Regions from separate parts of the Homo sapiens genome. Here region 1 is linked to region 2. The links come from fine-mapping of genetic effects on gene expression. A gene starts in region 2. The other region holds a variant in brackets. All regions are shown on one strand. Distances are from middle to middle. Region 1 overlaps KIAA0319L (KIAA0319 like). Region 2 holds the start of KIAA0319L (KIAA0319 like).

What was found. PIP is the estimated chance that this variant, and not a neighbour inherited with it, causes the effect.
Region 1: its variant is the best candidate, but not a certain one, in a credible set for the expression of KIAA0319L in skeletal muscle (GTEx, PIP 0.70).

What each region holds. Positions count from the first base shown.
Region 1 is chr1:35,525,344-35,530,726 of GRCh38, reverse strand. All of the region lies in intron 2 of KIAA0319L (KIAA0319 like), which reads left to right. Among named protein-coding and RNA genes, the nearest start is that of KIAA0319L, 29 kb to the left of the region's middle. The variant TGAAG/G (reference allele first, on the strand shown) is at 2,834.
Region 2 is chr1:35,555,353-35,560,735 of GRCh38, reverse strand. KIAA0319L (KIAA0319 like) reads left to right here and starts at 3,333. Exons shown (of 21, transcript NM_024874.5): 1 at 3,333-3,529. NCDN (neurochondrin) reads right to left here and starts at 2,937. Exons shown (of 7, transcript NM_014284.3): 1 at 2,513-2,937; 2 at 1,489-1,629; 3 at 1-410. The coding sequence starts at 2,545. RefSeq lists enhancers at 1-539, 996-1,721, 3,100-3,159, 2,449-3,175, 3,176-3,903 and 1 more and silencers at 2,109-2,318, 3,390-3,529, 3,540-3,639.

The DNA.
Region 1 (5,383 bases), 30 kb after region 2:
GAAAGCCAATACAAAAAATTGGAAGTGACTGTTACACTTGATATACAGTTATCAACAAAAGGACTCAAGAAACATGAAAAGGCAAGGAAATATGGTATCTCCAAAAGAACACAATAATTCTCCAATAACAGACTTCAGTGAAAAATTTATGATCTGCCTGAAAATTCAAAATCATGATACTAAAGAGGCTTAGTGATATGCATGGGAACACAGATAAACAACACAAAGAAATCAGAAAAACAATTTAGGATATGAATGAGAAATTCACCAAAGAGATAGCATAAAAAAGAACCAAACAAAAATCCTAGAACTGAAGAACTTAGTGAATGAAATAAAAAAGGCAATTGAGAGCTTTAGCGATAAACTAGATGATAAAGCAGAAGAAAGAATTTCAGAACTCGGGCTGGGTGCAGTGGTTCATGGCTGTAATTCCAGCATTTTGGGAGGCTGAAACAAGCAGATCGCTTGAGTCCAGGAGTTAGATGGGCAACATAGTGAAGCCCTGACTTTACAAAAAAAAAAAAAAGGCCGGGCATGGTGGTGCATGCCTGTAGTCGCAGCTACGCAGGAGGCTGAAGTGGGAGGATTGCTTGAACCTGTGAGGCTGAGGGTGCAGTGAATTGTGATCGTGCCACTGCACTCCAGCCTGAGTGACAATGAGACCCTGTCTCCAAAAAAAATAATTTCAGAACTTGAAGACAGGTCTTTAAAAATAACCCAGTTAGATTAAAAAAAAAAAAAAAGGCATTGTGACATATAGGATACCATAAAGTGACCAAAAATCTGAGTCTTGGGTATCCCAGAAGGTGAAGAGAAGTTTAATGGCATAGAAAACTGATTAAACAAAATAATAGCTTTAAACTTCCCAAATTTAAGAAGAGATTTAGACATACAGATACAGGAAGCTCAGAGATTCCCAAACAGATACAACCCACAAAGATCTCCTTGGCACATGATAGTCAAACTGTCAGAAGTAAAGACAAAAAGAATTCTAAACACAGCAAGAGAAAAGCATCTGTTCACATCTAAAGGAATCCTGATCAGACTAACAGCAGATTTCTCAGCAGAAACCTTGCAAGCCAGGAGAGAATGAGATGATATATTCAAAGTGCTGAAGGGAAAAAACAAACCTGCCAGTTAAGGATACTGTACCTAGTGAAGTTATCTTTCATAAATAAAGGAGAAATGAAGACTTTCCCAGACAGGGAAAAACAGATAATTCATAACCACTAAACCAGTCCTACAATAAAAGATTAAGGGAGTCCTACATTCGGAAGTGAAAGGATAATATCTACCATCATGAAAACTCGTGAAAGTATACAACTAACTAATAGAGCAAGCACACAGATGAGAAAGAGTAAGGACTCACTCATTTTATCATCAAACCATAACAATAAGAAAGGAACAAAAGATATGAAAATAACCAGAAGGCAGTTAACAAAATGACAGTAGTAAGTTCTCACATATCAATAATAACCTTGAATGTAAACAGATTAAATTTTCCACTTAAAGGATATGGACTGGTCCAGTCATGTGGACGCATTCTTTTAGTCCCAGTACTTCAGGAGGCCAAGGTGGGAAGGATTGCTTGAGCCTGGGAGTTTGAGACCAGCCTGGGCAACATAGTGAGACCTCATCTCTACCAAATAACAACAACAATAACAGACTGTCAGAATAGATAAGAAAACTTGACCCAACTATATGCTGCCTACAAGAAACTCACTTTACTTGTAAAGATAACTATAGACTGAAAGTAAAGGGATGGAAAAAAATACTCCGTGCAAATGGAAACCAAAGGTGAGCAGGAATAGCTTTACTTGTATCAGGTAAAACAGACTTTAAGTCAAAACCAGTAAAAAGAGACAAAGAAGGTCATTATATAATGATAAAGGGATCCATTCAGCAATAGGATATAACAATTCTAAATATATATACACCCAACACCAGTTCACCCAAAGCAAATATTAGACCTAAAGAGAGAGGTAGACTCTAATACAATAATAGTTGGGGACTTCAACACCCCACTCTCAACAATAGACAGATTATCTTAACAGAAAAATCAACAAAAAACACTGGATTTAAACTATGCTTTAGATCAAATGGATCTCACATTTACAGAACATTTCATCTACCAACTGCAAAATACACATTCCCATCAACACATGGAACATTCTCTAGGATAGACCATATGTCAGACCACGAAACCTCAACACATTTTTAAAAATCAAAATCATATCAAGTATCTTCTCAGACCACAATTGAATAAAACAAATCCATAACAAGAGGAACTTAGAAACTATACAAATACATGGAAATTAAACAACATGCACCTGAGTGACCATTGGATCAATGAAAAAAGAAGAGATAAATTTCTTGAAACACTTTGGGAGGCTGAGGCAGGAGGATCACTTGAGACCAGGAGTTCAAGATGAGTCTGGACAACATATTGAGACCCTGTCTCTACAAAAATAATTAGCCAGGTGTGGTGGCACATGCCTGTAGTCCTAACTACTCAGGAGGCTGAGACAAGAGGATCTCTTGAGCCCAGGTGTTTGAAGTAGCAGTGAGCCATGATTGTGCCACTTTGCTCCACCTGGGTGACAGAGTTAGACCCTGTCTCCAAAAAGAAGAAAAAAAATTTCTTAAATTTAAATGGAAAAAACATACCAAAACCTATGGGATACAGCAAAAGCAGTGCTAAGAGGGAAGTTTAGAGCAATAAACACCTACATCAAAAAAAGTAGAAAGATTTCAAATAACCTAATGATGGACCTTAAGGAACTAGAAAGGCAAGGACAAACCAAACCCAAAATTAGTAGAAGGAAGGAAATAA[TGAAG/G]ATCAGAGCAGAAATAAACAAAATAGAGACTAAGAAATAAAAAAAAAGAAATGAAAAGTTGGTTTAATGAGAAGATAAACAAAATCAATAAACCACTAGCTAGACTAACCAAGAAAAAAAGAAGAGCCAAAAGCAGGAATGAAAAGGAGACCTTACAACTGATATCACAGAAATGCAAAAGATATCAGAGAACATGAACTATACATGAACAAACAGGAAAACCTAGAGGAAATTGATGAATCCGTGGACACATAAAACCTACCAAGATTGAATAAGGAAGAAATGGAAAACCTGAACAGACCAATAACAAGTCACAAGATTGAATCAATAATAAAAAGTCTCTCAACCAAAAAAGCCTAGGACCTGATGGCTTTACTGTCAAATTCTACCGGACTAATAAGCAGGAACTAATACTGGTTCTTCTCAAACTAGTCCAAGAAATAGAAGACGCAGAAACTCTCTCTAATTCATAGAATTCTTCATAATTCTATGAAGCCAGCATTACCCTGATACCAAAACTAGGCAGAGACATAACAAAAAAAGAAAACTACAGGTCAATATCCCCAGTGAACATAGATGCAGAAATCCTCAACATAATATTAGCAAAACAAATTCAACAGCACATCAAGAAGATACTTCATGATCAAGTGGGATTTATCCCAGGGATGCAAGGATGGTTCAACAAATGCAAATCAATAAAATGATACATCATGTCAACAGAATGGAGGACAAAAACCGTGTGATTATCTCAATAGGCAGAGAAAAAGCAACTTATAAAATTCAACAACCTTTGTTTCCACAAATGCTTTTGGAATATAAAATTCAGTATCCCTTCATGATAAAAATGCCCAACAAGTTAGGCATAGAAGGAACAGCCTCAACCTCCTGGGCTTAAGCAGTTCTCCCACCTCAGCCTGCTGAGTAGCTGGGACTATAGGTGCATGCTGCCATGCCTGAATAATTCTTTAAATTTTTTGCAGAGACAGGATCTTGCTATATTGCCCAGGCTGGTCTTTAACTCCTGGCCTCATGTGACCCTCCTGCAATCCTTCCGTCTTGACCTCCCAAAGTGTTGAGATTACAGGCATGATCCACTGTACCCCACCTCTAAAATTTTTATGGAACCACAAAGACTCCAATAACCAAAGCAATTTGAACAAAAAGAATAAAGCAGGAGGCATCACACTTCCTGACTTCAAAATATATGATAGTCTGGACACAGTGGCTCATGCCTGAGCAACTTAGTGAGACCTCATCTCTACAAAAAATTTTAAAAATTAGACAAGGGTGATGGTATGTATCTGTGGTCCCAGCTATTTGGTAGGCTGAGGCAGGAGGATTGTTTAAGCCCAGGAGGTTGAGGCTGCAGTGAGCTAAGATTGGACCACTACACTCCAGCCTGGGCAACAAAGCGAGATCCTGTCTCTAAAAACCCACAAATATATATATATATATATACATATATATATGTATGTGTGTATATATATATATATATATATATGTATGTATATATATATGTATGTATATATATACACACACACACGTACATATATACATATACACACACATACACATATGTATATATGTACATATATATGTGGGTTTTAAATATATACATATATATATATATGTATATAAAATTCTAGTAACCAAAACAACAGACAGCATGGTATTGGTATAAAAACAGACAGTCACATAGACTAATGGGACAGAACAGAGAACTCAGAAATAAACCCACGTATTAATAGCCAATTGATTTTTGACAGAGGTGCCAAGGACACACATTGGGGAAAGGATATCTTGTTCAACAAATGGTCCTGGGAAAACTGGATACTCATACACAGAAGAATGAAACTAGAGCCCCTGTCTGTCATCATATACAAAAATCAACTCAAAATGGATTAAAGACTTAAATGTGAGACCCAGAACTGTAAAACTACTGGGAAGAAACATAGGGGAAACACTCTAGCATATTGGTCTAGGCAAAGATTTTATGGCTAAGACCCTAAAAGCACAGGCTGCAAAACCAAAAATAGACAAATGGGATTATGTTAAGCTAAAAAGCTTCTGCACAGCAAATGAAACAACAAAGTGAAGAGAGAACCCGTTGAATGGGAGAAAATATTTGCAAAATATCTGTCTGGTGACAAGGGACTAATATCCATAATACACAATTCCAACAACTCAACAGCAAAAAACCCTACATAGCCCCATTAAAAAGTGGGCAAAGGATCTACATATCCAGACATAAAAATGATTAACAGATATGTGAAAAAATGTTCAACATCACTAATTATTAGGGAAAGGCAAATCAAAACCACAATGAGATATCATCTTACCCCAGTTAGAATGGCTGTTATCAAAAAGGCAAAAAAGAACAGATGCTGGCGAGTATGCGGAAAAAAGAGAACTCTCATATACTATTGGAGGGAATGTAAAGTAGTACAGCCATTATGTAAAACAGTATGGAGATTTCTTAACAAACTAAAGATAGAACTACTATATGATCCAGCAGTCCCACTACTGGGTATTATTTATCTAAAGGA
Region 2 (5,383 bases):
GCCTGGTCAAAGCCATAGCCGTGCCCCAGGTATGCCTGGCATAGGGCAGACACGGTGCCACCAGCAATGAGGTGCCGAGGCCCTCTGGGTGTGCCTGCTACAGCCGTCAGGCACTGGTAGGTGTCATCAATCATGGAGCGGCGGGCAGCATCGTCCGGGTCCCCCCGGGCTGTGAGGAAGGTGCTAAGAATGGGAATCTTGTTCAGGACTTGGGGATGGGCGGCCAGTTCAGGGTCACTGCAGAAGCAGGCCAGCAGGGCCACACCCAAAGCCCGCAGAACATGGTCAGGGCAGCCATCCGGCGCCTCCTTGGTGGTCAGGAGACGATTGGGGAAGGTGAAGCCGACAGCATCGAAGATCCGCCGCCGAGTTTTGGCATCTATGTCACCTGCTTTGACTGCCTTGGTCACCTATAGGGGGTATGTGCTATCATCAGGATGAAAGGAAGAAGTGGGAAAGACTGTCCCTCTCCTGCATCCTGGGGCACTGAGGACTAGCAAGATGAGGTTATGCAACAGGACTCATCTGAGGTCATTTCATCCAGCTCCTTTTTTCTCCTTAGAGGCAGATAAATGTGACCTCTGGGATCCCTCTCATCTGTGACTGTCCCATGGAAGTGAGGTCTAGTCTTCCTCAACCATTCATTTGAGCATTTCAACACCTGGCCAGTTGAGAAGTTCTTCCTGATGTCTAAATGCCCACAACCTGGGATGGAAGGGGCTTAGAACTCAATGTTTTAAGATCTCCCAAGGATTTAAAGTCCTTCCTTAATTGCTCCCTCCAGAGAAGTCCCTGATCCATTTCTGCCACCTTCTCAGGGGAAATGGCTCCTGTGTCTCGCCGCTCCGCCTGTCAAAACATTTCCCCTTACATTTCACCTAAACACCTCCTCTGCTGCAGTGTGAGCCCTTGACTCCAGAGCCTTCTCCTTGTTGCCATGGCAAACAAGCAGCGGCTGTACTCCCTCCTCCCTTCACCCCCCACACACAACCCCCCCTTCCTAGCACTGCAGCTTCTGCTCTGCTGTCCCCAGCTTGGGTTCCTCCAAAAAGGCTAAGCCCCAAACTAGCTCCCATTCCTTAACCTACCTACTGCCATCCTGGCCTTCCCCTAGGACCCCTCCCCAGCCACTTCCAGCCCTGCTACTCTCTCCAGGCCCAGAACAACCATCCCCAGCCCTCAAGTACTCTGCACTAGTTACTACCTGCTGCTGTTACCCTATGAGTCAGCTTCCATCTGCTCTGGGACGCCCCAGAAAACAGACCCAGGCAGCCCCTAGTGCCACAGCCTTATTCAGTCCCATTCTCCTCTTTGCCCCCATTCTCAGGGGGAGCAAAAAAGAGCACAAAGGTAGGGGTCTTGGGCCTTCGTTGGTGCCTCCAGGGTTGCTAGCACTACGTACATATCCTTGGGGACTCACTGACCCCATTCCTTGGGGGCCCAACCACCCAGCCCTTCCCACCTCCCAATTTTCAGCCAGTTCCTTACTAGCAGCAGGGCTGCAAACTGCTCGCTGTCATTCTTGGCCTCACGGAGGGCTCCCAGGTAGCGCTCCAGGGTGGGGTTTCGGCCCTCTGCCTGGTTCAGAGCTGGCTCGCAATCCGAGGCCATGATGCTCGCCTTGCCCAACTGTGAACACAAGAGGGACTGAGCATCCCTCTGCAGAGGAGGGACGGGGGTGGGGTGGGGGTGAGAGTGGAGGATGGAGGGAGGGAGGGATTAGCACAGAGGGAGGGGAGGAGAGAATCTGGAGGGGTGGACTCCTCAGGACTGACCTCCCCCCAGAAGCCCCTTTAAGGGGCTGGATCTGCAAATCCTTAGGGATAAAGAAGGGACCCTGGTCCAAGGTCACCTCCAGAAAGCGGGAAAGAAGGACCATGCATGCTGCTGCTCAGCCGGACAGCTCTCCTCACCAGTCTCCTGGGGGTGGGCGGGAGCTGGCCCCACTGCTCAGCTGTCCCCCTGGCACCGGAGGCTGGGTTTTATCTCCCTCCACAGGGACACAGAGGGAGTGAGTGGTGAGGACAGACAGGGAGAAATGGAGACATACATGGGTGAAGTTCGATTATCCGGACTCAGGCTGACATGGGAGAAAAGGACACCCCAGGCTTCCTTTCCCCTCCCTTCTTCAGAGGCAGAGATACGCTTCAGAAGTGAGAATACAAGACGCTCAACAGGGAAGGCTTGGAGGCCCCTTTGGGGACCCCACCCCTCCAGCCAGGGCTCTCAGTCGCCCCCGCAGGCTCCTTGCCTCCTCTCCTTTCCCTCCCTCGGGTAGAGGCTGCAGCAGCAGCAGCAGCGGCGGCGGCAGCAGCAGAATTAACCCCTTGCGCTCCCTCTTCTCGCCCTCCCCGTCCCGCTACCAGCCTGTGGATGCCGGCAGGGGCTGGAGAAGCAAGAGGGGGTCCCGGATAGTTCCCAGGACAACGGAGAATCCAAAAGCCGGATAATCGAAGCAGGGCTGCTGAGATGGGGAGATGAGAAGGGGAGGAGGGTTCCTGGCGGTCACCACCTGTCCCGCCGCAGCCAGGTCACAACACGACATTGATGAAGTCACGACAGGGCGGCGATGAGATCACACTTCACGATGGCGCGGTGATGTCACGGAGAGATCACGTCAAAATCACGACATGGGAGACAGCCCCCAAAGATGACAGGGCAAATTAAAAAAAAAAAAGATATATATTGAAAAGGGCTGTGACAAAATGGAGTCTCGACAGGGCACGATGGTGTCGCGATATGGCGCGATGGAGTCGCGATAGGGTCCCCGGGGTGTGTCGGCATCGATCAGCGCCGGCTCGGAGAGGCCCCGGCTGGGATGCAGGGGAGGGCCCGAAGGGGGCTGAGCTCACCAGGCTGCGGCCCCGAGCGGCGAAGTCTTCTCCCAGCGCGATGCTCCGGGAGCCTCGGGCCGCTGCTCACGCCGCGTTGCCCACTCCTGGCTCCAGGCTGCTGCAGCTCCACCCCCACCCCCGCACCGCTCTTGACGAATCCGCGGCTGCTTCACTCCGGGCTCTGGCCAATGGCAAGTCAGGGTGCTAAGCAGTAGGGGGTGCCGCCGTTGCCGCCATCTTGCTTGTGGGTATTGCCCGAGTCTGGGGGCTGGGGCTCGAGCGAAGGAGGCAAGGTGCAGACTGCCTCTGGAGAGCGGGCGGCGAGAGGCTGGGGGCCCAGATTCCTTCGCTTGTGCGTAGTTTTACCCGCCCAGCACTGCCCCTCCTCCCCCTTGGTCTCGCGGCCGGCATTGCCCTTCCCGGGGGAGGGGCGGGAGGGCTTGGTTAGCATGGAGAGTGTGTTTCCGGGTCGGTCCCGGGGAGGTGGGAGGAGGCGGTGTTTCCGGCCGCCGTCGCTGTCCAGGGAGGCTGAGGCGAGAGGTAGCTGTCCGGGTGGGGAGCCCGCACTACCTTCTTCCTCTTCCTCCTCCTCCTCCGGGTGAGGGGAGCGAAGGTTGGGGGTCCCCGAGCCCATGGACCAGGAGGAGGCGGAGGCCGCCGAGAGCCGGGGCCCCGCTATGTGGCCCTGAGCCCCGGTAGGTGGCCGGGGGCGGCTGGCTGCCAGGCCGAGGACCATGGGCTCAGGGGAGGGGCAAGCGGGACGGGCGATGTCAGCGGCTGCGCTGGCCGGATGTTGGGTCCGGAGGTGGCGCCCCTGGCTCGGCCAGGGCAGCCAGCTGCTTCTGTCCTTGCAGGTGCGCAGCTTGGGTCCCAGGCTGAACCCCGCTTCTCTCGGGCCTGGGCCTAGTCATGCAGCTCCCTCCATCCCCTGAGAGCCAGGCAGACAGCCGGGGTTCGGGGCGCTGCCGTCCTTCTTCCACCTTCGACCTCTGCAGCCTAGTCTTTAGTTGCTGTCTCTGATGTTTGGTCTCTCCACCGAGATAGAAAGTTGGTGCAGAATGAAGAGGGGATGGGGTTGAGCACGATGTGTCCATTATAATGTGAAACCTGCCTCATCCACGATTTTGAAAATTATGCCCCACAGAGGGTCCTGTAGTGGCTGCAGTGAGCACAAAGGTGAAATGAAGGAAGTCAAAATTGATAACCTCTGGCGGGATTCCAGGAACTCTTTGGCTTCTGGTCTCATAGTGGTTGTGTCCAACTGACAGTAGTTGCAGTTAGTGAAGAGCATTAGCTGACTCTCCTTGTGCTCTCTCCTGTGATTAACAGACTGAAAACTAGGAACAAATTGGAAAGACGACCTCCCAGAACAATCTGTTCATTTTTCCAGCTATTTGGAAAACAGTGTCTGCAAATATAAGCAAAGCTATTCATGGCAGTCTGTTCTGTAACTTTCCCAAATATCTGAGACTTTTTAAAAAAGAGCTTTATTCTCGATTACTCATACCAACTGAATAGATTGTTTCAGACGTGCTCCATCGTTGTTCAAACATATCTTATCGCTGTGTACATAAATGGAGTTCCACGTATGTAGTTGACAGACTGAACTGTGATACATCCCCCATCAACCTGAAGTATTAAGTAAACATTACCCCCTGCTCTGTCTGAACAGCTGCTGCAACAGAGAGTGCTTTTATTTTGGGTGTACTTGTAACGCCCTAAATGCCAGAACTATTGTGAGCTTCTCTAGATTTTCATTTGTCAAGTATTGTGGGGGTGTGTGTTCTCTCCCTGGGTTGTTACCCTTTGATTCAGTAACAAACTATTCGGATCTTGGTGATGTGTTGTTGTTCTTGCGTTTGGTCAGCAAGCCTTTAACTGGACCCTAGCAGTGATTTGTGCCCTTAGGCAATTATAGGTTTCAGAGGAATGACTGGTTAGGAGTTCAAATGAAATTAACTCTGCCTTTCTCTTAGACGCAAGATTTATTAGACATGGCACTTCTAATCAGCTTGTTAGTCCAGTGGTGTTTATTACTCCATTTTTCAAAAGCTATTCATTTCTTTTCTGCTTCTCCCACCCACCTGTCAGGCTATTGATGACAGCTGTTGAGTCACCTTGAGTTTTAAATCCTTTTGTGGTAGGCAGAAATGTGTTGGGTAAGATTCATACACACCCATACATGCACACATGCATACTCACTCGTTCCCTCTTGGGAGGCTAGAGAAATTGCTGGATGTACTTTCTAACTTAGGCTCCATTTCATAATCTCTTGAACATGTCTCTGGCCCACACACCTCCTTTCTGCCCCCTGCTCCCTGAAATACAACTACAAAACAACTAGAAATAGGAATGGATGGAAGTGAATGAGAACGATGAAGTCCTTCAGATGCATGTGGTTCTGCAAAAGCCTTTTCTTGGGTGGGCTGCACCTTAGTTTTGCAGCTGTGTGTATGTCTGTGGCTGTTTCTTGGTATTAGTCAGTATTGGTATCCAGCCCAGGCAATGCTGATCTCCCTGTATGCTGGCCGTGGATAGGAGTTAGGGGT